3 separate regions of the Homo sapiens genome follow, and all the other regions are linked to region 3. Evidence: fine-mapped expression QTL. A gene starts in region 3. Each other region holds a variant in brackets. All regions are shown on one strand. Distances are between the middles of the regions.

Region 1 (8,109 bases), 91 kb after region 3:
TATCTCTTGCAGTCTCCTCTACAACCAAGAGGCTTAAAAATGTCTCTTGCCTGCCATTGCCTCCCTCCCCCAGCTTAGTTTCCTTGGAAAGAGGCAGTCAGAGAAAAGCAGGCAGCAGGGTGTGATCCCTTCATATCTCCTAGATTCTCTCTCTTCCTCACCACTGCTTTATTCTGAGCTTTTTTGGGCTATGGCAATAGCTTCCTTCATTCATTCAACAAATATTTGTTGAGAACACATCTGGATCTGAGCTAGGCACTGTGATGGCCTCTAGTGATATATCAGATATATCAGTCAATAAAGTATAATCTGTACCTTGATTAAATTTACATTCTGGTGAGGGGCCCAGAAAATAAATATGTAGTGTATCAGATAATAAGTTCTTTAAAGAAAACTAAAGCTTTTTGTATGGGGTTACTGGTCAGGAAAAACCTCTCCCGAATGAAGAGATGGGGTAAGCCATTTGGAAAACTGGGGGAAGAACCCTCCAGGTGACTACAATAGCAGGTACAAAAGCCCTGCGACTGGGTTTGATGTGTTCGAGGAATAGCAAGGAAGCAAGTGTGGCTGCAATGGGTGTTTGAAGGGGCAGTGGAAGATCAAGTGAGAAAAGAAGGCAGGGATCATGTTATGAGCCACTTGACCATGACGCAGACTCTAGATTTGATTCTCGGCATCACAGGCAGCTACAGGAGGGCTGAGAACAGGAGTCAAGGCCAGGTGTGGTGGTTCACGCCTGTAATCCCAACACTTTGGGAGGCCAAGGTGGGCAGATCACCTGAGGTCAGGAGTTCGAGACCAGCCTGGCCAACATGGTGAAACCCTGTCTCTACTAAAAATACAAAAATTAGCCGGGCGTGTAATCCCTGTAATCCAAGCTACTCAGGAGGCTGAGGCAGGACAATCGCTTGAACCTGGGAGGTGGAGGTTGCAGTGAGCCGAGATCACACCACTGCACTCCAGCCTGGGCGACAGAGCAAGTCTGCCTCAAAACAAACAAACAGAACAAACAAACAACAACAACAAAAACAAGAAAAAAACCACAGGAGTAGGGCATGATGAGATTGCATTTTTAAAAGGGCTACCGTGGGTGCGGAGTAGGTGTGGTTGCTACAGGGCAGATGAGGGTGGAACAGGGGCTCAGTTAGGAGGCCTCTCTTAAAGTCCAAGTGAAAGCTGAGAGCTGGTAGGGGCCAGGGTGGTGGTAATAGTAGGGAAGGTGATGTATTTTGAAAGCAGATCCAACCGGATGTGCTTTCCAATTGCTCTCCCAGATTCCTGTCTCTCCTCCTTCAAATCCATCCTGTAGCAGATTAAAGTTCAAGTTCTTGAGAGCACAGACCGTGTAAGTCATTGCTGTATCCTTAACACCCAGCCCTGTGCCTGGCACATAGCAAAGGCCTGCTTGAATAATTACATAAATGGTTCCTTTATACTGGTTCCAAAGTAAATTGCCTAAATGACAGCTCTGATTGTGTCATTTTTCTAGCCTTTGGAGCTCCCTGTGGCCTAGAAATAAAGCTTTAACGCTTATATGGCATTGAAAGTCCTCTCTGATTTGCCCCTGACCTAATTTTCAGGCTGATCATCTGGTGCTCTTCTGCCCCACCAGTCTATCCCAGCTCCTGATTTTACACTTTAGTGAGGATGTACCATGAGTGATTCTCCACATACACACTATTTTGCCTCCTTATTTTTCTCCTGTTGTTCTTGGTCTTCATTGTACCCTAGTCCCACACCCAAATCCCATAAAACAATTATCCCCAGCCTCTCATACTCATCTCATCCATTTTTTTGGTTAAACCTCAGGAAAAGGATTTTTTTTCATTTTTTTTGTTTTGCTCCTATTGTTCCCTAAGCCTGGAATGCCTGCCCCACCCCCATGAATGCCTGTTAAAATCTTACATCATTCATGGCCTAGTATAAATGTCATCTTCCCTGGGAAGTATTTATGACCCACTCCTTTTACCCCCAAATTATTTTTAATCCCTGTTTTATACTCTCATAACATTTTCCTGGTGTCACTTATTATAGTTATACATAGGGGACACAGGGATAGAAAGAGCGCAAAGAGCACTGGGATTCAATCTTGCATTTAAGTCACTGAAGTCTCCTGATAGCTACAAGGAGATTTTTTTTTTTTTTTTGAGACAGAGTTTGCTCTTGTTGCCCAGGCTGGAGTGCAATGGCACAATCTTGGCTCACTGCAACATCTGCCTCCCGGTTTCAAGCGATTATCCTGCCTCAGCCTCCCAAGTAGCTGGGTCTACAGGCGCCTGCCACCATGCCTGGCTAATTTTTTTTATTTTTAGTAGAGATGGGGTTTCACCATGTTAGTCAGGCTGGTCTCGAACTCCTGACCTCAGGTGATCCACCCGCCTTGGCCTCCCAAAGTGTTGGGATTACAGGCGTGAGCCACTGTGCCCGGCTGCTACACAGGGAGATTTGAACACCTGTCCTATTGACTGGGTTGCCATGAGGATGAGAAAGCATGTCAGCAAAAGCACTCTGTTAATTGCATTATTATTATATCACATACCACATTCTACTCTATGTTAGAGTTAGTGATACACAGATCTCTTCTTCATACCAGATTAAAATCTCTTGGTGGGGGCAGCGACCAAATCTCTGTGTCTTTCCACAGTGCCTTGTACAAGCAGGTGCTGGGTAAGTGCTGGCTATATTAAACTGAATTGTTCCCTGGAGGTCCCTCCCAATCCCAGGCCCTCTAACTTTCCAGTCTTTATGCACGTGGAAGTAGCTGTTCATTCCCTTAGTTCCCACTGCTGATGCAAGCTCTCTAACAGAGAGTGGTACTCCCGCACTCCCTCCTCTGTACCCACAGACCCCGGCCCTCGCAAACTCTGATGTTACAGAGCTAGCGATGGGCCTGGCCTCTTCTACCCCAGGGACTGCTCCTACCTTTGCCAGGATGCTTTGGCGATGAGTCTTGCAGAGATGATGATGAAAGGCCAGCTCCAGATTGTACTGCAGCTGTTCTACTTTCCTTTTCTCTTGGAGCCCTGGCCGATCTGGAGGAGGGGGTGGGACCGTAATGAGAACAAGAAAGAACATGGACATTAACTCCCAACAAAAGGGTGTATCTTTGTGGACATCTGTGCTGGATAGAGGTCTTCTAAGCTGAGCGCGTGCATGTGTGTGCCTTGGTTTGATAATGGTAAGCTCTGGACGTTGGGCTTGGCTAGCTGTCTACAAGGAAAACTGGGAAGAGATGAAAGGTATGAGAATTTCTGATCTCCTGACTCCAAGCTACCTTCTCCCTGGTAACCTGATATTCCACATAGCTCATTCAATGCTAGGCACTAGGATTCTGTCATAGGGGTAACAAGAGTTGGAAAAGAGCTCCCCCATGTACGAAAAGGGCTCCTGATAGGAGGTGGCCTTCCTGAAGGTGCCCAGGCCTGCACCAGGGGGCTTGCAGCAATCTGTGACTAACTTTTGCCCTGATTCTATAAAATATCCAGAAGTCATCTTTAAAGTTTTTATCTTCTAGTTTGAAGGGCATATTTAGGTGTCCACTCACTGGCAGAGCCAGAAGACTGATAGTCTCGATCTGCAAACTCAGGTTAGCAGCTTGACCCACTTCCCTAGGTTCTCTGAATATTTAGTATTCATCTGGCTCAGCCCAGCTACTCCATGCCAGGGGA[G/A]TGGATAGGATATCCAGAGTCTTCCTATTATAGGCATACAGCCTTAAAATTAGTTCACACAGAGCAGTGATTCTTAATCTTGGTGGCCTGGGGGTGGCTGTTAAAATTCAGTGCACCCCTTATCAATTACAGATGGTCCCAGTCTTATGATGAGTTGACTTACTATTTTTTGATTTTATGTTGGTGAGAAAGCCACTTGCATTCAGTAGAAACCATACTTTGAATACCCATGCAACCATCCTGCTGTTCACTTTTAGAACCATATTCAATAAATTACATGAGCTATTCAACACTTTATTATAAAATAGGCTTTGTGTTATATGCTTTTGCCAGACTGTAGGCTAATGTAAGCATTCTGAGCACATTTAAGGTAGGCTAGGCTAAGCTATGGTGTTCAGTAAGTTAGGCGTGTTAAATGCAATTTCAACTTACCATATTTTCAACTTACGATAGGTTTATTGGGACATAACCCCATCATAAGTCATGGAGCACATGTACACTGGAATCTCTGGAAGTGGGACCCAGGCAGCAATAGTTTTTAAAGCTCCCCAGGTGATTCTGATGTGTGCTACAATGAAATCACTGCCATAGACTAACAATCAGACACATTTCTGTCAGGAAAGTGGCTCATTTCCTCTCAACCTCATTTCTCCCCACTTCCCACAACCCCACCTTATGCTGCTCTTGTCCCTCTCTGAGAGTCCTCTGAATCTTTATTTTAACTCATTTTATTTTATAGCAATACTGAGTAGGGCTCATTCTGCTATTTAAAGCAATTTCCCAGATTTAACTACATCTGAAGGTCTAGACTCTTCTTCAATATCTGCCATGCCCCTGCCACCTGAATGTCCTTCACCCAAGCCCAGCAACACTCACGGGCATTGATGAGAACAAGGGCTGTGTAGAGGGCAATCTCATCCTCGGAAAAGTGCAAGGCACTTAGGGAGTGGGAGAAGTCAAAGATGGAGCTGATGAGCTCGCTGCAGCCTGATGGAGTGGAAATGAGAAAAGTGAGAGAGTGGCTGGAGCGATGGTGCCCGAGGACACCGCCCTTATTGTGTTTAGAGCAGAGGGGGCAATTCGCCCTGAAAAGAGGGTGCCCTGGGTCACAAAGCTTTGCCTGGGGTTGGCATCAGAATCTTCCCTCTCATTTCTCCCTGCCCCTCACCCAAGGCTCGGAACAGCTCCATGCCACCGTATTTGCCTTCAAAAAAGACCGTGCGGTTGTCAGCATTGTAGGCCCGGCACATCCTAACCAGCACCACTTCCATTGCTCCTGGGCAGTGGGGAGAGAAGATGCAGGGACAGTGTCAAGCAAAGCCAGGATCTGACTCTGTCCCCCTGATTTCCTTAAGCCACCTCCCTCCACTTGGCTCTGTCCCCTTGTCCCCAGGCCTGCCCACCCATCCCTGGGCACCTGCTTTGAGAAGCACAATCTGGTCATTCTGGCAGAGCTCCATAAAGCCTGAGAGCCTCTTGGCGAACTCCACCACGTACTGAATGGCCTCGGTGAGGTGGTGGGCACACCGTTCCCACATCTCCCACATGGACTGCAGGGAGGGAGGAGGGTCCCGCTGTAGCGCTCTGTGTGGCCCTGTGATCCTCCTGAGCCCTGGAGCCCCACCTAATAAACTGCAAGGGGTAGGCTCTGAACTCCTATGTTCTCAACTAGCATTTTCAAAAGCCTGGTCTTAGCACAAATGCACAGATTCCTGCCAGTGAGTCCCACACACTGAGCACCTACCGGCTGCTGACACCGAGTTAGCTGTTGTGAGGGAATCCAAAAAGTATGAGATACAGCTTTGCCCTCCAACAAGGTATATCTCGTTGAGGTGAACAGGACATACAGCTGCCCCTTCCCCCACAAAGGTTATGCCCAAGGTCTCAATAACCTGGAGAAGCAAATGTGAAGTGCCAAACGAGTGTGTTTAGAGCAGGTGGTATGAGAGTGTGATCGAAAAGGCAGCATAAACTTTGGAGCCTGATGAATCTGAATTTGACTTTGGTTCCACCACTTTGTGACTTTGAGGAAACCTATTAACCCCTCTAGGCTCAGTTTCTGTCTGTTAAAAGTAGGAATAAATGCCACCCTCATAGGTTGGTTGTGGTAGGGGCTGAGGATAATTTACATAAAGCGTTTAGCACAATGCCTGGCAGAGAAGGGGTGTTTAACAAATGGTAATCAGGGTTCTGATTATTGTTATTGTTGATGGAAGAGGAGGAAGGAGGGTGCACCAAGGTCTGCATGGTAGAGGAGGTAGGATGAAGGCCAGGTACAATTTTAATAGGCAAGAACTAAGGAAAAGCGCTCATCCATCTGCTGGGGTGTAGACAGATACACACATTCGCAACTGTACATAAAAGGTGTGCACATGCTTGTTGGCCAGCCTGTGTCTGTGATGTCCCGCCCTGCCCCAGGACCCAGTCGTGCGCAGGTAGCCATCTCTGAACTCTCCCGGTGGGGGTGGGATACGTTCCCTTCCTGCAGGTCTCCTGGCCTCACCTTCCTCTGGTAGCCAGTCACTTCCTCCCGGGAGAAGATGTTGGAGCGCTGCCGCAGCAGGTCCTCCAGCCGCAGCTGGCATGTCTCCCTGTAGGACTTGCAGACGCTCTGCACCAGGTGCTCTGGGGCCGGAGAAGGAAGGCATGGCTTGATCTCAGCCAGCTCCTACGCCTACCCATGCAAGGGCACTTCTCAGCCTGGCCTATCCTGCTCCGCCTCCTCCCTCCGCCCCTCGTCTGGACCCCTCAATTCCCTCAGGCGCATGTTTGATTGATACGGGGTACTGGTGGAAACCCCTCCCTCATCTCTACCACCCTCTCCACCTCCCCAGCTGCTCACCTATCTCTGTCAGGGAGGCATAGGGTGCCTCCGGTGTGCTGCGGAAACTGGGGCTGCCGTAGCTGTCTGGGCCCTGTCCCAGTTCCCCAAGCCCAGGATGCCTGTGTTCCTCAAAACGAAGTCCACATCGGTCAGGGGTCAGCTGGCTGCCTGTGCTATAGAAGCTCTCTCTGCCCTCAGCCTTGCCCCGCTCAGGGCTGTATTCAAGGTGGCATGAGGCCCCATTGAGCCCTGCCTTGGCCAAGTTGTTGGAATATGAGGGCCCAGAGCCTGAGGCTTTCAGGAGGCCAGGGGGACAGGCAGAAGCCTCAGGCAGGTCAGGCGAGGAGCCCAGGGGCAGCTGCCCGTCTGGGAGCCCCAAGGTGTAGGTGAGGGTATCTGCTCCTTGGGCCCCTGCTGGAGGGGTCTTGACCACTGGTTCCTGTTGCTGCTGTTGCCGCTGCTGCAGCTGTTTCTGCACTTCTGCATGCAGGCTGTCCCTCTGCTTCTTGGACATGCGGCCGAACTTGACAGCTGAAAGAGGTCCAGGGACCAGGGGTTTATGAGGCAGGAGAACATGGCACAGGGCAGGGTCAGGAGGCATTTGGTCATTAAAGGATTAACTTGCTGCTCTCTGAATGGCTGACTCCAAGCACAGCTTCTCTAGCCTTTAGGGAACTTATGCTCAAGACCCCGTCCACCTCTCACTCTTGTTTGCTTCTGGGGTCTGTCCAGTCTGCCATTTCAATCTGCTAAGCAAAATCTTCTAAGTTCTAAATCAGATTTGAATCATGGCAGAATTCAAGCAATGAGTCTAGGCTGGGGATTCTGGCCTCCAGATCTTGGGGCTGGGGGTGGTCGAGCAGAGGGCCTCAAGCTGTATTGGGGTCACCTCGCCTCTTTGGGAGGGTCGGAGGAAGAGGAGAGCTGAGAACACAGGTCTCCCTGTGGTCAGGCCTGCAGGCTCCCTGGTGACCTAGATACTCACCACAGCCCAACCCGGGCTCCGCGGCTTGTTTCTGAACATCCTCTTCTGCTCTCTCTTTCCTGCCTTTTTACTCCCCCCGCCACCCCTCCCAGGTGTAGGGGCACAGCCCCTCGCCCCGCCTGCCCCTTTGCACCCCTGCGTGCTTCCTTTTGCTTTGTTATTTTGGGCACTGAAAAGTGCTGACGGGCTCCTTCTGGCTCCTCATCACCTCATGCCCCCCCAGCTCCACCCTAGGCTCCTTCTGTGGTGGTGGAGGTGTGCAGGGAGACTGGTGAGGAGGTGGTGGGTGAGGAGGGTGGATAAGGCACCAGGAACACCAGCCCTCCCCCACGACCACCCTCTGGTTGTTCTCAGGCCAATTCTGTTTCCATTCCTGGCTATAGTCCTGTGTCCAAGTATGGGAATGGGGGATTAGAAAAGGAGATAGAGCTAGAACTACAACAACAGGGTAGCAGGGGAAGGTGCCAGAGCTGCATGGGAGCTGGGCCAGAGGGCAGCAGAGTGAGGAGAATTCGTTCCAAGTAAGAAGAGATGAAGAGGTATGGGACCTTGGAAAGAGGATGTTTGTTCTAGCAAAGCCTAAAGTTGGGGACTCCAAAGAACTTTGATGGGGGTGACCCATCCATCCCTGG
Region 2 (8,109 bases), 99 kb after region 3:
TTCCTGGCTGCCCAGGAGATCATCCCTGGAGTCAGAACAAAGGCCATTAACCCCCTTGTTTATCTCTAAGGAGACACTGTGTGTGTGTGTGTGTGTGCGCGCGCGCGCGCTTGTGTATGCACACGCACACATGCATGCATACACATGCCTATGACTCACCTTGCACCCCTCACAGGTGATAACCCCGTAGTGGATCCCAGACGACTTGTCCCCACAGATTTTGCAAGGGATCACTTCAATTTGTGCTGGAAGAGAGAAAGAGAAGTAGGTCAGCCCAGGAGGCTTTTCTGCATTCAACCACCATGTACCTGGGCTGCAGATACAGGTACCTGGTGCTTCCACTACTTCTCCAACCAGCTCCAGCTTGCTGTTTCCCTCTTGCAAAATGGAAGGGGAAGTGAAATGCCAAATGCTTCTCAGCAAAGGGTGTGAGGAAGCTGTGTTTGTTTCACAGAGGAGGGGAGTGTGGAGGGGTGGCCGGGAGTTGTATCAGTGCTATGGAGGCAGAGAAAGCAGCTGCAGAGGGGCCACCTGCTCAGCCCTTCGAGTTGAAAAGCTCCAGTTGCCTCCCTCCCGCCTTGGGACATAGGACTCCTCACGGCCTCACAACACCTGCTTCCCGCCGAAGGGGCTTCCTCTGTGCCTCCCTCCCTCGCTGGGGCTCAGCTCCCATGGGCAAAGTGTAGGGTATAGCAGGAAGATGTGGTACACAAGGGGTGGGGGATAGGCAGAGATGCCAGTCCTTCCCAGCCAGACAGTGAAGGCTCAGGGAGGTGCTATACAGAGACAGGGTGAGGGGGTGGCAGGGAGGAACCCAGGAAACGGGGGCTCAACACCCCAGCTCTGCTGGATGCCTGAGAGCCTAGGGAAAGAATTAGCCAGGGCTCTTAGGCTCTTGGCCCCAGAGCAGAGAGAGGGTGGCTTTGTGTACATCCGTGTGTCTGAGTGTGAACACTTATGTTTGTACAAAGGCATCTGTATCCATTTGTGTGAACATGAATCATCAATGTTAAAAATGGCTGAGACTAGAGACCATCTCATTCAACCTCTTCATTTACCGATGAAGGACTAAGCCAGATGAGGCAAAGCGGTTGGGCCAGGGTCATAGGCTAGTTTGCCTGAGAGCTGGATCTACATCCCAGTTCCCCTGAGCTTTCCATTATGCTGTTCTGTGTACCTGTCTTTTCGGGTACACATTTCAGTGGGCATGTTTGAAGGTGTGCTTGTGGGTGTGCATATGCAAGAAAAGTATGTGTCATTTGTGAGCCTACGACATATCTGGTTGCTCCTGCGTCCACACGTGCATATTTGTATGTTAGTGTCTGCTCATGGGGCACTAGGACCCCGGGTTCTCTCTCCCACTGAACTCACTGTAACCTGTACCTGCTTCCCTACCCCTGTGGTTTGCTGCTGGCCCTAAGCTCATCTCTGCTTTGCCCTGTTCCTGTCAATGCCCACGACTCTCTGCTGAGCTTCATGGGACCACAGGAGGCCTTCTCCCAGCTCTTCCTTGAAAGGTAGCTGGGCAAAGCTTGGGATCCCTGGTTACTGTAGGTGTTTTTAGCATTTCCCAGAGCACATGGGTCTCTTTTCCACCATCACTGACCTGCTGCCTCCCCTCTGAGTGGGGAGCCCTGGGGCGGGACAGGCCAGAAAAGTGAAGAGAAGGGCCAAAGCCCCTTTTAATCTATGACGTGTCTCCCACCAAAGGGGCAAAAGAAGTGGCAGCCTCTCTGGAGGGCGAATGCACATTGCTGTGATCTCACCTCCAGTCCCTGGCCTGGACACTGGTCACATGTAGGGCCTGTTGATGTGAAGTGGGCAGGGAGACCATGGCTTGCCCGCCATTCCCCAAAATATTATTTCCATCATTCTTAAACCATCATCCCTCAGGCCAGACTTGAGGTGAGTCAGAGGCAGTAGCTGACCCTGACGGGGACAGGGCACATGGGTATCTGAAATCCCTTCATTAGCACTCAATTCCTCACCCAACCCCCAGCCACACGTGCCTGCCCAGCAGCAAGCTTCCAGTGCTCACACTGTAAGCTGTGGTCCCCCCAGGACCAGGCGGTAAGTGAGTTTTCCAGGTTCTTTCCAGTAAATTAAGAGCAGATTTTAATACATGGAGGGGAAGAGAGAATAAGAGGGCACTGGGTGTCTGGAACAGGGGCAGAAAACGTTGGGGCCCCCATACTTCTAGTCACTTAGATTCTCCCTCTAGACCTACGTTTTCTTGTCAGCAAGATCAGGATAAAAGTATTATTGCCTGTCCATGGGGTGATTGTAGGTAACAGAGAGTAATGAAATGATATCACCAATGGAAAGCACTGTGTATTCAAGTTACTCCTGAGCAGAGGTCAGGCTGAGAAGACCAGTGGGCCTGGCAAGGCTGAGAGGAGCACTCGGGCCCTGTGGACTCTGTTCTTGCCCAACACCTCCCCCTCCAACACTGTGGCATCTCTCTTTTCAGTGGCCTAAGACCAGAGATGGGAGAAACCAACGTGGGCCACCCAAAAAAGTAAGCGGGAGGGAGATTAGGCCAAGCCGCAGTGGGAACTCGGGCTCTGGCCCAGCAGTCAACCACAGGCCTCCCTGCCTCTTCCCTTCTCCAAGAGCCACATCCGCGTGCGTGTGTGTGCTGACCACATGGTGACCCCAGACACATCTCCCTGCCCCATGCTTGACCCACTGCTTCTCCTGGCCCTAGGAACCTCACAACAGTGTCACCAAGACCTTGACCTTCTCATAGGAAGATGCGGCCAGTCAAGGACCCCCTTCGCAAATACCCATGTTTGGGCGACACCAAAGCCTTGGACTCCAGCCACCTGGTCAGCCCATCCTCCATCCTCCCAGTCCAAGACAGAAGTACCCAGTGAGACAGACACACAAGGCCAAAGACTCTGAGCTAGAATGTCAGACCCCCTAGCCTCACTGAGCTGGAGAGACCAAGAGGTTTGGGTCCAGGAAAAACAGAGACATAGATCTAGGGATGGAGAGACGGCTGCGGAAACACTGAAACACAGAAAATCCACGCTTGTATCCTGGCCTTTGCCCAACCCATGGCCCCCTCAGCACTTCAGGCCCTCTAGTCCTGCTCCCCCCTCCTTCCCCTGCCACCTGCACTCCCTTCAATGCCATCCACCCAAACCTCAGAAAGAAAGTACCAGTGCTGTGTACATGAGGGTGTGTGTTACTTGTAGAGAAGGGGTGGGGGAGAACGGGAAGGGGGCTGGTAGACTTGGGGGTTGGTGAGAGGAGCTGAAAACACCTCTGATGATAACTCACCTTCAAAAGCTACCCCT[G/A]GGAGACACGTCCCTGAAGCAGCAGGTGGTGGGAACTCAGATTGGGGAGAAGGAGCTGAGTAATCACAGGATTACTCAAACTGTTGCCCTGGAGCCAGGCCTGCCAGGAACTTACCATCTAAGGGCCTGCCAGTGCCAGGAACTAGAGCCAAGCAAAGGTCAGGAACCTCGAACCAGCCCCTGCACCACTGCTCCCATGGCAGCCCTAACTCTACCCTCGCCTGCTGTCTTGGAAAGATCTTTGCATCTCACCTGCAGCTCTCTCACTGTAGCTCTCTCCTGAGAGAGAGCTTTCTCCAAAAGAAAACTCCAATTCCACATCTTCCAAAAGGAGAGACAAATGCCCAAATGCACCCGCCAGCTCCTTAAGTCATCTAATGACTGAATGACTATGGCTTTCTGCATCTCAAACAAGATTACCTGGGGATCTGAGGTGGGACTCAAGATTCTGCACTTTGGTCAGCTCTTAGTTGGTGCCTAAGCTTACTGGTCTTCAGCTTATACTTTGAGTAGCAAGAACTTAGTCCCTATTCCTGCCTTTTTGCCAGGCTGCTCCTTCCAGGGAGTGGGGCTGGGGTTGGCGATCTTTTCCTGAGCTCATTCTTGCATCTTTTCTGCCATCCAGTGTGACCTCTAAGACTTCATTCTGAGACAATACTAGAAAAAGAAACTGAATCTCCTCTGAATTGCTTTAGAGACTGAAGTACCCCCAGGAGCATCCTAGTAGCTCCTCCTATGAGGGGAAATACGGTAGAGGCAAAGTCCTCCATCCTCCTCTAATCGAGCCTCTCACAGCTGTGAGATTCAATGATAGTGCTTTGAGTACTTCCAGAGCCTGGCCCTGTGCCAGCTTAGGAAGCCAACCCTGGGCCCTGTCCAGGTGCCCTATGCCACAGAGAGGAAGTGGTAGGAGCAGGGGAGGGGCTGCAACCCAGGGGGATCTCTCCTCTCAAACCCCAGAACCACCACCCCCCCACCATCATGGTAGAGAATGGGTTCACACAGAGAAACCCCGGGGTCCTCATCTCCTCCTGGTGCCTCGTCAATCTAGAGCTGGGCCTTTTCCTCTCCTCTTTCTCTCTCCTTTTTCTCCAGTGGATACTGATTAAGGAGAAAGGATAATGATAGACATAAGCATTGGCTGAATTCTTACTCTGTGCCAGGCTTTACATGCATTTTCATTCAATGATCACAACCACCCTGTGAAATAGGCCCTGCTAGTATCATCCTCATCTTACAGATGAGAAAACTGAGGCCTAGAGAGAATAAACAGCTTGACTAAGGTCACACAGCCAGAAGTGGCAGATCTGGCATTTGAACCTAGATCTCTGTAATTCTGCAGCCAGTGCCCTCAAGCCTTAAGCTATATACTTTATGAGGATAAGACGCCCAAATGCACACCGGAGACCTGGGTAGAGGACATGGTTATTTGGCTGTAGGGGTAAAAGTGTGAGGTGATTGTGGTGGTCTAGGAACAGAATTCACAGAGGAAACCCACAGAACTAAAGCCAGGACTCCTGTTTGTATAAAGATCCCAAGAGATATTATTCCCTCTGTCCCAACTCTTCCTCTGAGGTCCCAGCCTCCTCCTGCCCTTACCCCTTTCTCTAAGGCCAAGTGGGATGACTTATATATCAACAACAGGGTTCCCGGGGACTCCTCAGGAACACCACAGCCCCTTTAGGGTATAGACTAGGTTTCCATACATCTTGGTATGCCTCCCTTTGCAGAATGAATGAATGAGTGAGAAAGAGGAATGCATCTCTTTCCTTAGCTTGAGCTCCTCCTCTCCCCACAGCCAGAACTCTCTGTCTCGATCCCCACCGAGACCACAGCTCCGGTCAGGGGTCACTTGCACACCCCAACCTGTCACCAGCCTCCCTCCTTTCTCAGCTCTCAGTTCCCCCAGCTTCTGCAAAGCTGGAAACCAAGGTGGTGGGTGCCACCACAGGGGAGCAGGAGCGGGAGGGCTGGGTGGGGGCTGGGGGAGAAGTGGTTCTACCTGGCGAACACTACCCCCAGCCCAGGCCAGGGCCCTCACCGCAGCTCCTGGTGAGAATTTTCTGCTGAAACACCCAGATCCTGGGGCTGAGAAAATAGTGAAGCTAAAACTCAGGTGGGCGAGGGAGAGTCTGGGGTTTTGAAAAGCCATGAATGACAGCCAGCCAGCCACCCGAAACCCCCTCCTGGTGCCTCCGCCACCCCCACAGTCTGGGACTGGAGAAAGGCGAGTGAAAACAACCAGTGAATGGGGGAGGGGATGAATCACTAGGAGGAAGCTCTGGCGAGTGGGAGCCCAGACGTCACCATCAGCACCTTCCCTGCCTTCAGGGCCATCTGTCCCTCATCCCAGAGCACCTTCACTGCTCCAGGAGGGTAGTGGACCCAGAAAGACCTTGGCTCTGGCCCTGAGGCCCTGCCTTGTTACTGTCCCTCCCCCGAAATAGACATCTCCATCCTTTTTGAGCCTCAGAGCCCCAGGGAAGGGGCTGCACTGCAGCAGCAGGCGTGGAGGTGAGACTTCAGAAAGGACTAGCTATATGGGAACAGGAGCGCGGGCCTTGGGCTGCCCGCCTGGGAGAGACCTTAGCCCTTGGAAAGTCCTGTTCCCTGTTAGTTTGAGTCAGCAGCACAGCGGCAGGGGATGGGGAGGAGCCCTTGGTAGGGACCGAATATTTTCATTGTGCTGGGACAAGCTGAGTCTTTTCAGAGTCTAGCACCTTGGGCTCGGTGGTTTGGTATTTCTGTTAGGAATGGGAAGACGGGGAAAGAGAAGGGTGCTGGAGTGATGAAAGGAAGGAAGAAGCCCTTCACGGAGTCCTAAGATGGCCCTGGGCTCTCAGGGTGATATCTGTGTACCCTGGGGACTTGGAGTCCTTTCTGGCCCACTGTTCCTCATGATCATGACCAAACCTAAGAAAGATCAGCTCATAGACAGTGACCTCACACCCCTCGGCCTCCCACCTCCCCATCCAGACCAAATGCCAGGGCCTGAGTGCCTATTGGCGCCACGCTGGCCATGCCCTTAGGGGAAGATGTCTGGGCTACCCTCCGTCTGGCTGGCTGGGAGTCTCTTTGGCGTACAGACACATTATCTCCACTTGACAGCAGCAGGTCGGATGGCAGGGTGCTGGTGCCATCCTTGTCAGAGCCACCCTACTTCCCTCTTACCGCTTGCCTAGACCCTGTGTCTCCCTGTCTTCCCTTTACTGCCAGTTATCTTTTCTCTCCGCCTCTCCCTGTGTCTATGTGCCTTGTGATCTTCTGCATTCCAGCTCTGTTTCTGGGCTTCACACCTTCATGTTTGTTTGTTTGTTTAAGAGACAGGGTCTCGCTCTGTCACCTAAGCTAGGGTGCTGTGACATTGATCATAGCTCACTGCAGCCTTGAACTCCTGGGCTCAAACGATCCTCCTGCCTCAGTCTCCTGAGTAGCTGGGACTACAGGTACACGCCACCATGCCCAGCGAATTAAAAAAAACTTTTTTTGTAGGGACAGCGGCTCACTTTGTTGCCCAGGCTGGTCTCAAACTCCTGGCCTCAAGCCTCAGCCTCCTGAAGTGGGATTATAGGCATGAGCCACCACGCCCGGCTGCACCTCCATGCGTTTGGCTCTATTGGTGTTTCTCCAACCACACCTCCAGCTGGACATTACTCTCTCCCTAGGTGTTCCAGAAACTCGCCCTCTGAGTTGGGCCTCTGCATCTCTCCTTATTTCTTGATTTGTTTCTGCTCCTTTTGTCGGGCCCTTGGTCTCTGGGTGTGTCACAGTCCCAAGCCCCATGTGCTTTGACTTTTGCCATCGGCGGTTGGAGGGGCTGGTGGTGGTTGGCACTCATTGGGGTCAGATAACTTGGGGCTATGAGATACCTGTAAATGTCCAAGTGAGAAGGACCAGTGGCACTGACCCCCTCGTTGGAGGAGGCCCTCTCTCCTACTTCCCCGCCTGGGTGGGGCTGTGTGTGTGTGGTGGGGGTGGGAATAATGGAGAGCTGGCCAAGTGTCTCCCTCAGCCCCTCCTGGGGACTCCTGCCCCGCTGCTGGGCTAGAAGCACACCTAGTCATTTCATCCCAGGGTTGATTTGCTCATTAGGGGCCATCTCTGGGAAGACCAGTCTGCCAGCGTTTGCTGCTAATAGAGAGAAGCTAGAAGGGAAACGGAAGCTCCAAGGGGCCCTTTCCTCTGTGTAGAAGCTGTTGGCTCTTCTCTCCAGCCCTCCTTATCCACCCCAGCTCATATGCCTGCACTGTGGCCTCAGTCCCTGTCACAGAAGTGGAATTCTTTTCTTTCCTTGGTTTCCCTTCCTTCTAACCTCTGGGAGAGCTGAGTCTCCATCATCACCCTTGGGGATGCCTGCCTTAGGGCACTGGGCTCTCTCTTGGCCCTGGGCCTTTGGAATGGGAGACTCTCCATAGTTGGTTTTGTTGTTCTATCTTAAAATTCAGCTCCCTTGTTTTGCGGATGGTAGACCAGGGCCCAGTGACTTGGCTTGTCTAAGTCTATATGGCTAGCCAGTGATAGGCGGCACAAGTGCCTGGTCTTACACTGTCAGTCCAGGGGTCTTTCCAGGACTCAATACGGCCTCCCTTCTGTGGCTTGTGGGAAGACCCCAGGTTGAAGCTGGGGCTGCTTCAGGCCTCAGCCACAGGGGCATGGGGCTTCCCTTTTCCTCCTTCACCTTGTGCTCTGAGAGCTTCTCTGGCTTCCCTGGCTTCCCTTCACAACAAATACAGGGGACTTCCTGAGGTTGCCCACCCTTGCTCTGCTGGAAGGCACAGGAACCCCAGACATCTGCCCACCAACTGTT
Region 3 (8,109 bases):
CTTCAGTGGGAAGAACCACAGCTGTCAAGCTTCCCCTTAGGATGCAGAAACCCAATTACTCTTTCCTTTGCTTCTTTCTTCAGTTGGGTTCTTTGAGTTGGACTCAAATTGAGCCAGGTAGCACAGAAGAGCAGGGGAGGCACATTCGGGGACCATTGCTCCCCTGACCATGGATACTTCTATGGATGATTGGCAGGCTCCACGATCTGGAGGGAGCGTGACCCCTCCATGCACTGGGCCCACTCAGAGCACGCCCTCAGTGCAGGGATTATCTGTGGACATCAAACCTTGTCAGTGGTGGTAGCCCTTGCTTTCTGTCAGTGCTCAGCAACGGGGGCTCTCCTGGGGCTCTGGGCTTTTGTAGAGCACCCTGTCTTCCTGTCATTCCCTTCTTCTCCCCCGGGGTAGGGCTGCTGTTTCCACAGAGGCACTCGTGTCTCTAAACTGTGTCCCAGCTGAGTCCCAGGGGCCTCCATTCCTGAGCTATCACGGCAGGCAGGCTTCTCTTCTGGAAGGGAAATAATAGTAACAGCCAGTGCTTACATGGCTCTTACAGTGTCCCAGGCTTTGTGCCAAGTGCTTTATATTTACTAACTCCTAAACCCTCACCACCCCCCTATGATGTAGATTTTGTCATCTCCAAATAGAGAGGAGGTAACCAAGACACAGAGCTGAAATAACTTGCCTAAAGCCATGCAGCTAGAAAGAGGTCTAGCTGAGACTGGAGCCTGGGCAGTCTGGCTCCTGAGTCCACGCATTTAACTCCCACATCAAACATTCCTCTTGAGAATGGGAGCAGTGGTGAAGTCTGGCCTTTCTTCCTCTTCTGTCTCCATTTAAGCCCTGGATGAGAGAGAGTCTTTCTTTTTACTGCTTGATTCTGTGGACCACCTCCCATCCTTCCTTAGCCTGTTTTTTTGTTGTGGCCTGGAGCCACGCTCTGGCAGGTGCTTGCATTTGAGTGAATGTGTATGTGTGTAGACTTGATTACACTTCATCACATGGATGCCCGGGTCCCCCAAGTAGGGTCCCCTAAGATGGGGTGGCAGTGGGGGGAGGTGCTAGAGGACTCAGTGGTGGGTGCTCAGAAGAAGCGAATGACGGCAGAGCCAGGGAATCAAGAAGGGCACACACATCTTGAAAGTAACTTTCCACTCACCTACCCCACCCCCACTGCTCCTTTCCTTGCCTTCTAATCTGATCTTGGTATTTATGGAGATGCTAAACAGATCATGTCCTCTGAGGATGGAGAAGGGGAAGACCCTATGGCCCTGTTGATCTCATTACTCTATGTCTTCTCAGCAGATCTGCCGCCCTGCTGCTCATTCAGGCTTGGGGCTAATCATATTAATTGAAATATTAAACATTCACAAAAATGAATTAAAATGAACTCCCCTCACTCCTCCTCCCAGTCAGTAATTGGGGAGACAGCTGCAGACAGCAAAATGCGTCCAGTCCTTTGCTTAGTTTGTGGTCCCCAAAGGTGTCAGTCTGAGAGAAGAGGCAGGGTTTAGAGGAGAAGAGTTGTACCACTCATCAGACTCTCCTTGCTGAGTGACGGTGAACACATCTCTGGTGTTCTTTCAGGCCATGGGATGGGAGTCCTGTGAGGTAAAGGCAGGGGAGCCCTGAGACTCAGATGCCTATTCTGGAAAGTTTCTCTCTAGGAGAGAGAGAGGCTTCCAGGATACTTTCTCTGCCCACCACCCCCAAGCTCACCCTCTTTTTTATTCCTCTGCAGTCAAAGCTAGGCTGCCCTACATAAAAAGATTATTGAATTTATAAAGGGAGAGCTCTGATCCTGGCTTTAGATTCTTAGGAAATGAGAAATGCTGGATAATTGGGATATTTTTCAGAAAGGGCAAAATGTGGTGGTATGTGTGGGCAGAGTGGCTAGTCATGAAGTACTTACTGGCTTCCCTGATTGAATACAGAGTGAAGACATCTGCAGCAGAATTTATGAGAGTGCACAAAGAATTGATTCTATAACCTTCCTGCCCTCAAGTGGCTTCCACCTCAAGTGGAAGGTAAGACAGGCCAACACAATACATAATAGTGAGTACTGAGACGCTGTTAAAAAAACAAAAAGTAGCCCCTCTCATACATGGGCATTTGGGTCATAGGATGTGATCAGTGAAGAAAGGCTTGATTGATTATCAAAGCACAAGAAGATCACAGATTGGCAGACGGAGGGTATCAATCATTTCCTACTTGGAGGTGGGGAGGTAGAGAACACTGTGCATGCCTGTGTGTGTTTGAGTGTGTAGGTTTGCTGGTCCAGGCTCTGGCATTGTCTAATATAATACAAGCCACATATATGGTTTAAAAATGTCTAGTAGCCATATATAAAAGCAAAAAGAAACAAGAGAAATTACTTTTAATAATAAATGTTATTTAACCTGATATATCCAAAATACTATTTCAACATGTAAATCAATTACATGTTATTAATGAGATTTTTTTCATACCAAGCCTTCAAAATCCTGTGTGTATTTTATATTTGCTGCACATTTAACACCTACAGCCACTTTTCAAGTGTTCAAGAGCCACAGGTGGCTTGTGGTGACTGTACTGGCTGGCACAGCTCTGGAGGTGCCACCACCAGCTTCTCTGGAGGGAGTATGGGGAGAAAAGACAGATCTTGGCCAAGAGGAACCATTATCTCTGGTTAACCTCTTGCTCCTGCCGGGAAAAAAAAAATCACTTCTGACAGATGGCAGCTTATCTCTCTCTCACTCTATTAACTCTCTCTCTTAAAAAAAGACAATCAACCAAAATGATCACTAACCAAGATGGGGTTCCTGGGAAGTGGCTTGTAGCCCACTACCTAATTTACTTCTTGTGGTTTTCCCTGGCTTGGGAACTGCCAACACTTTCACTTCTTTTCCTCAGTCTTTGCTGGAAAGGACAGAAGCAGACCAATGATAACCCCTCCACGGCCAGGGCCTAATGCTGAGCTTGTTTCTCATGGTATTTTCTTGCTCCTTAGGGCAGTTGTTCACAAATCTGAAAAGACAGCCTCCCTTTTTTCTCCTGCTTCTCAGAAGGCCTCTGCTGAGCACGATCTCTGTGGGGGTAGGAGCTCGGCATGTGTGTATTGACAGACAGGCTCATGCCCTTTCTCGTGGCTATTTTCAGCTCTCTGGCTTTATGTTTCACTTTCTCTTCTTAATTAGATACTAGAAGAACAAATCTTGAAGACCAAATTCCCTTTCTCCTCCCGTATTCAGTTGGGAGTGGAATAAAATAATTTAGAATTTATGAGGAGCCCAGGGTGAAGAGAAAGTTAATCTACACAAAAAAGTCAGTCCAAGAGGGGGAAATTCTGGCAGAATGTCCCCCAGGTCCTTTCCAGCATCTTTAGTCGGACAGAACGTTCCTTCCTTTGCAGAACTCAGCTCACTCTATGTTCTGGGGTGCTTCCACGTTGTTTGAAGAATCCACGGCTCCAGTGTCGAATGTGTACCGGACAGAGGGACGGGTTGGCTTCTGGGACAGTGGAAAGGGAAGAAGCTTGGGTTCTCTTTCCCCAGTACTAGGCTTCCTCTAGCTTCTGTCCAAGTGAGGGAGTCTGGAAGCAGATTCGGGGAGACCTTTTTTCCTGTTTTACTCTAGAGCTAACAAAAAAACCCTGAAGTTGGGTGGGGTCAAAAAGGGCTCATTCCACATACAATTAAGTCCAGAAATCAGTCCCCCAATCCGGGAAAGGCGATCCTTTAGAGACCCACCCCCCAAGCCCCCGCCCCGGAGCTCACCCCTCAGTTCCCTCAGCCCCTAGCCCCTGCTTCGCTGAAGGGGCCGGGCTTGGGGGCAGGGCGGGGCCGGGGGCGGGGCCTCGCCGGCTCGCGGCCGGTCGCCTTGACGACCGCAGCAAGATGGAGACGCTGCCAGGCTTGCTGCAGCGGCCCGACCCCGGGGCGCTTAGCGCAGCGCAGCTGGAGCAGCTGCGAAAATTCAAGGTGGGTGCGCCCGCGCCCCCATCCAGCGTCCACCAAAGTGTAGCTGCCCCAGGACTGGGGCCCCAGACTGGGAAGAGAGCCGCCGAGAGAAGGGGAGCGGGAGCCTGTTCCCTGATAAAGTGGGGAGGGCGCAGGGGAGACCCCCGGCGGACCTCTAGGCGTCTGATCCCAGCACAGAGCGCGACGGGCATCTGAGAGTGCAGGAAGAACTAACTCAGGGACTCGGCCAGAGAAATGGGCCGAAATTACTGCCAGACACATCCGACCTTAGTAAAGGCCCCTCATCCTGAACAAGCGGCAGAATGATATTTTATCTGTAAGAAGATGGGTGGCTTAAACTTTCAAGCATCCTGGGGAAAGACTTGGGTTAAATGCGCACGCCGTTTCCCGCAGCCCTTCACATCTCCAGGGCTGAACCCTGAATCTGTCTCCTAATGGAAGTGACCCTTTGTTCTTGCCCCCCAGATTCAGACTCGGATTGCTAACGAAAAGTACCTAAGGACCCACAAAGAAGTAGAGTGGCTCATAAGTGGTTTCTTCAGGTAGGTGGTTTTCCAGGCTCTGGGATTTGTGGCACGCAGGGTTTTCTTCGTTATCTCTAGAGGTTTCCTTCAGTTATCTCTAAATTCTTAAAAATATGTCTATTCATTTACTTTAACCATAAGGATAAATACATACCTTATGACACTTGGAAGAGGGAATTTGGCGTTGCGAAACCCAACAGCCATCCACTGGGTGTAGAACACTATTCTCAACCATAGGAGCTTAACAAAATCACTAGTTGAACTTAAAACAAAAATCAGTTGTCTGGTTGGCCCTTCCCTACTTGAAAACATTACTGTAGAAAAATTCCAAGGGTTGGAAGCCACTCTTTTCTTGGGGAAGAGAAGACAATTTACCAGCGTATCCTGGAATATGTTCTTTCCTTCCCCCACCCTCCTTTCAGCCTGGCATTTGCTTGAATGGAAACATATCCTAATGGGATGAAGAAGGAGAATTAAAAAAATAAATCACGGAGCATCAGTGGATGAAAACAATAGAGCTATCTCAAATGCTGTTTGGTTATAGACAAATAGACAAGGTTTAAATAATTATAATGGCACCCATCTCCAGGCATTGTGCTGTTCCCCTACATTAGCACTTACCACACTGTATTGTAATTGAGCTGTCAATCTTCTGTTACTGGTCCAAAGCTCCGAGCTTGTGGAGTGTGTTTGTGTTCTCAGTGCCCACGCAGTGTGTGGCATCTTGGAACACTTTTGCTGATCCTCCCAGCACCTCCACAAAAGACAGGTGATTGTCATTTTTATTTTATAAGTGAGAAAATTTAAGCTTAGAAAGGTGAAGTACCTTCCCAAAGTTGCTGAACCAGGATTCAAACCCCTGGTTTTCCCACTGTATTGTGCTGTAAGCAGTCGGTCCCCATTTCCCCTCTGGACTGTGTGCTTATAGCCAGAGGTGGGCCCTCCCTTGTCTTCTCAAAAGTTGGCGAGGTCAGGCAAGGTGGCTCATGCCTGTAATCCCAGCACTTTGGGAGGCCGAGGCGGGTGGATCACCTGAGGTCGGGAGTTCGAGACCAGCCTGACCAACATGGTGAAACCCCGTCTCTACTAAAAATACAAAATTAGCCAGGCGTGGTGGCACATGCCTGTAATCCCAGCTACTTGAGAGGCTGAGGCAGGAGAATCGCTTGAACCCAGGAGGCAAAGGTTGCAGTGAGCTGGGATTGCTCCATTGCACTCTAGCCTGGGCAACAAGAGCAAAACTCCATCGCAAACAAACAAAAAAAAGTTGGCCAGGCAGATGCGTTGGCTCACGCCTGTGATCCCAGCACTTTGGGAGGCTGAGAGGGGTGGATCACTTGAGGCCAGGAGTTCGAGACCTGCCTGGCCAACATGAGGAAACCCTGTCTCTACTAAAAATACAAAAATTAGTCAGGCGTGGTGGCACGTGCCTGTAATCCCAGCTACCTGGGAGACTGAGGCAGGAGAATCGCTTAAACCTGGGAGGCAGAGGTTGCAGTGAGCCGAGATTGCGCCACTGCACTCCAGCCTGGGCGACAGAGCAAGATTCTATCTCATGAAATAAAAATTAAAAAAACTCACTATTCATATTATAGACGTTTCTCCAAGTGGCAACAAATTCTCAGAGGGCAGATAGGGGAAGGAAACAGAGAAAACTGAAACCTATCCAGTTATGAAGGTTGGCCAGGGATAAGCCTTGGGCAAAAGAGAGTTTAGGGATCCTCTGTCAATATCAGACCTGAGGATCAGGCCGTCACCTTTTGCAACTTTTCTTCTAAAGGGAAATAAGATGATATCGTTCCTATCCTGGGGAGCTTGCTCTCCAAGTTAGTAGTAGTTCCAGCAGAGAGATTGGGGATAGAAGTTAAAAGCTGAAACTAAATCAACATTTGCATTGCTCACAAACAACAGGATTAGAATGCTTGGGGTTGATGAATAAGAATGAGTTGTTTCAGTCACCTGTCAGAGATGGCCTTGATTCTCTCTTTGTCCAGGAACAGTTTCCAGGAGCAGCCTGGGTATCTGAGACTGGCTGCTGTGGGAACAGCCCCAGATACTTCCTTTCCTTTCTTACCATGTTCCTGTCAAGGCCAGGTAGGCCACCAGGTTTTTCTTTTTGCTGTCCCTAAAGCTACTCTACCTGAAATTCTTCTGACCTCTTTTCCTGGGTGGAGCTTGCAGAGGGTTTAGTGTTTGAAGTTTTAGGGTTTACTTTTGTTTGTTTGGTGTCATTGTTCCCTTTGATTGGTACCGGGATGAACCAGAATCAGCTTCTGTCCCTGCTGGCCACCTCACATGGTCCTTCCTATGAGAAAAGAAGAAGGGAGAAGTGAGGGCAGAGTCCTGAGCACCGTGCCTGTCCTTGTCTGTTCTGCAGATATCTGCTGTTGATACATTCCAAGCCAAAAGAAGCTCTGAAGGGTTCTTTCTGGGAAGCAAACTCCCCACTTGGGTTTTTTAGATCCTAATGATTTATGGCCATTCAGCCACAATTCTCCAGCCTATATTGGTAAATACAGCGTACCAAACTCTTAACACCTTGAGTTTTGGACCTGAAAAATGGAAAGAGTAGGAATCTGACTTATTTTAAGGTACACAGAAACCTCAGGTTTTGTGCTGCAGATATGATAGATAGCCAGGTATGAAATTGTAGAAAGTATTTTTTTTTTTTTTGAGACGGAGTCTCGCTCTGTCGCTTAGGCTGGAGTGCAGTGGTGCGATCTCAGCTCACTGCAACCTCCGCCTCCCGTATTCACGCCATTCTCCTGCCTCAGCCTCCTGAGTAGCTAGGACTATAGGCACCCGCCACCACGCCCGGCTAATTATTTTGCATTTTTTTTTTTTTAGTAGAGACGGGGTTTCACTGCGTTAGCCAGGATGGTCTTGATCTCCTGACCTCATGATCCACCTGCCTGGGCCTCCCAAAGTGCTGGGATTACAGGCATGAGCCACCGCACCTCGCCTTTTTTTTTTTTTTTTTTTTGGAGACGAAGTCTCCCACTGTCATCTGGGCTGGAGTGCAGTGGCGCAATATCGGCTCACTGCAGCCTCCACCTCCTGAGTTCAAGCTATTCTCCTGCCTCCACCTCCCAAGTAGCTGGGATTACAGGTGCCTGCCACCAGGCCCGGCTAATTTTTTGTATTTTTAGTAGAGATGGGGTTTCACTATGTTGGCCAGGCTGGTCTCAAACTCCTGTCCTCGTGATCTGCCTGCCTCGGCCTCCCAAAGTGCTGGGATTACAAATACAGCAGTAATCATGTCCTTCCTTGGCTGGAAAAATCTTCAGTAGTTCCACAACGTTGCTTTTTTGGGTTTGTTTTTAAAAATTCTATTGAAATATACTGAAAAGTGACATATCCTAAGCTGGATGAACTGTCAGAGGGTGAAAATACACATGGTACTATTGTTCAGATGAAGAAATAGAACCTTACCAACACCTCACATCCTTTGTGCCCCTCCCAGTCACTCCCCTTAAAACAGTAGCCAGTATCCTGACTTCTACTAGCACGGATTTATTGTGCGCTTTTGTATTTTATATGAATGGAATTTTACACTATGTGCTCTTTTGTGCCTGTTTCCTTTTGCTCAGTCGTATCTTGTAGATCCTCCATTCTCACTGCTGTAT

Direction of the effects. Alleles are on the strand shown, and positions count from the first base shown. SD is a standard deviation of normalised expression in the study named. Not every link is listed here.
With allele G in place of A in region 2, the expression in anterior cingulate cortex of the gene that starts at base 3,861 in region 3 is higher (small effect, 0.32 SD a copy in GTEx).

The links. PIP is the estimated chance that this variant, and not a neighbour inherited with it, causes the effect.
Region 1: its variant is the best candidate, but not a certain one, in a credible set for the expression of RIIAD1 in skeletal muscle (GTEx, PIP 0.88).
Region 2: its variant is the best candidate, but not a certain one, in a credible set for the expression of RIIAD1 in anterior cingulate cortex (GTEx, PIP 0.55).

Annotation. Positions count from the first base shown.
Region 1 is chr1:151,808,403-151,816,511 of GRCh38, forward strand. It overlaps RORC (RAR related orphan receptor C), which reads right to left. Exons shown (of 11, transcript NM_005060.4): 5 at 6,511-7,023; 6 at 6,172-6,293; 7 at 5,086-5,218; 8 at 4,837-4,944; 9 at 4,545-4,655; 10 at 2,923-3,032. Among named protein-coding and RNA genes, the nearest start is that of LINGO4, 7.0 kb to the left of the region's middle. RefSeq lists enhancers at 444-944, 6,539-7,039. The variant G/A (reference allele first, on the strand shown) is at 3,669.
Region 2 is chr1:151,817,036-151,825,144 of GRCh38, forward strand. It overlaps RORC (RAR related orphan receptor C), which reads right to left. Exons shown (of 11, transcript NM_005060.4): 3 at 160-245. Among named protein-coding and RNA genes, the nearest start is that of RORC, 11 kb to the right of the region's middle. RefSeq lists enhancers at 5,048-5,549, 5,550-6,049, 7,819-8,109. The variant G/A (reference allele first, on the strand shown) is at 3,303.
Region 3 is chr1:151,717,662-151,725,770 of GRCh38, forward strand. It overlaps RIIAD1 (regulatory subunit of type II PKA R-subunit domain containing 1), which reads left to right and starts at 3,861. Exons shown (of 5, transcript NM_001144956.3): 1 at 3,861-3,959; 2 at 4,425-4,501. The coding sequence starts at 3,876. RefSeq lists a silencer at 3,746-3,815.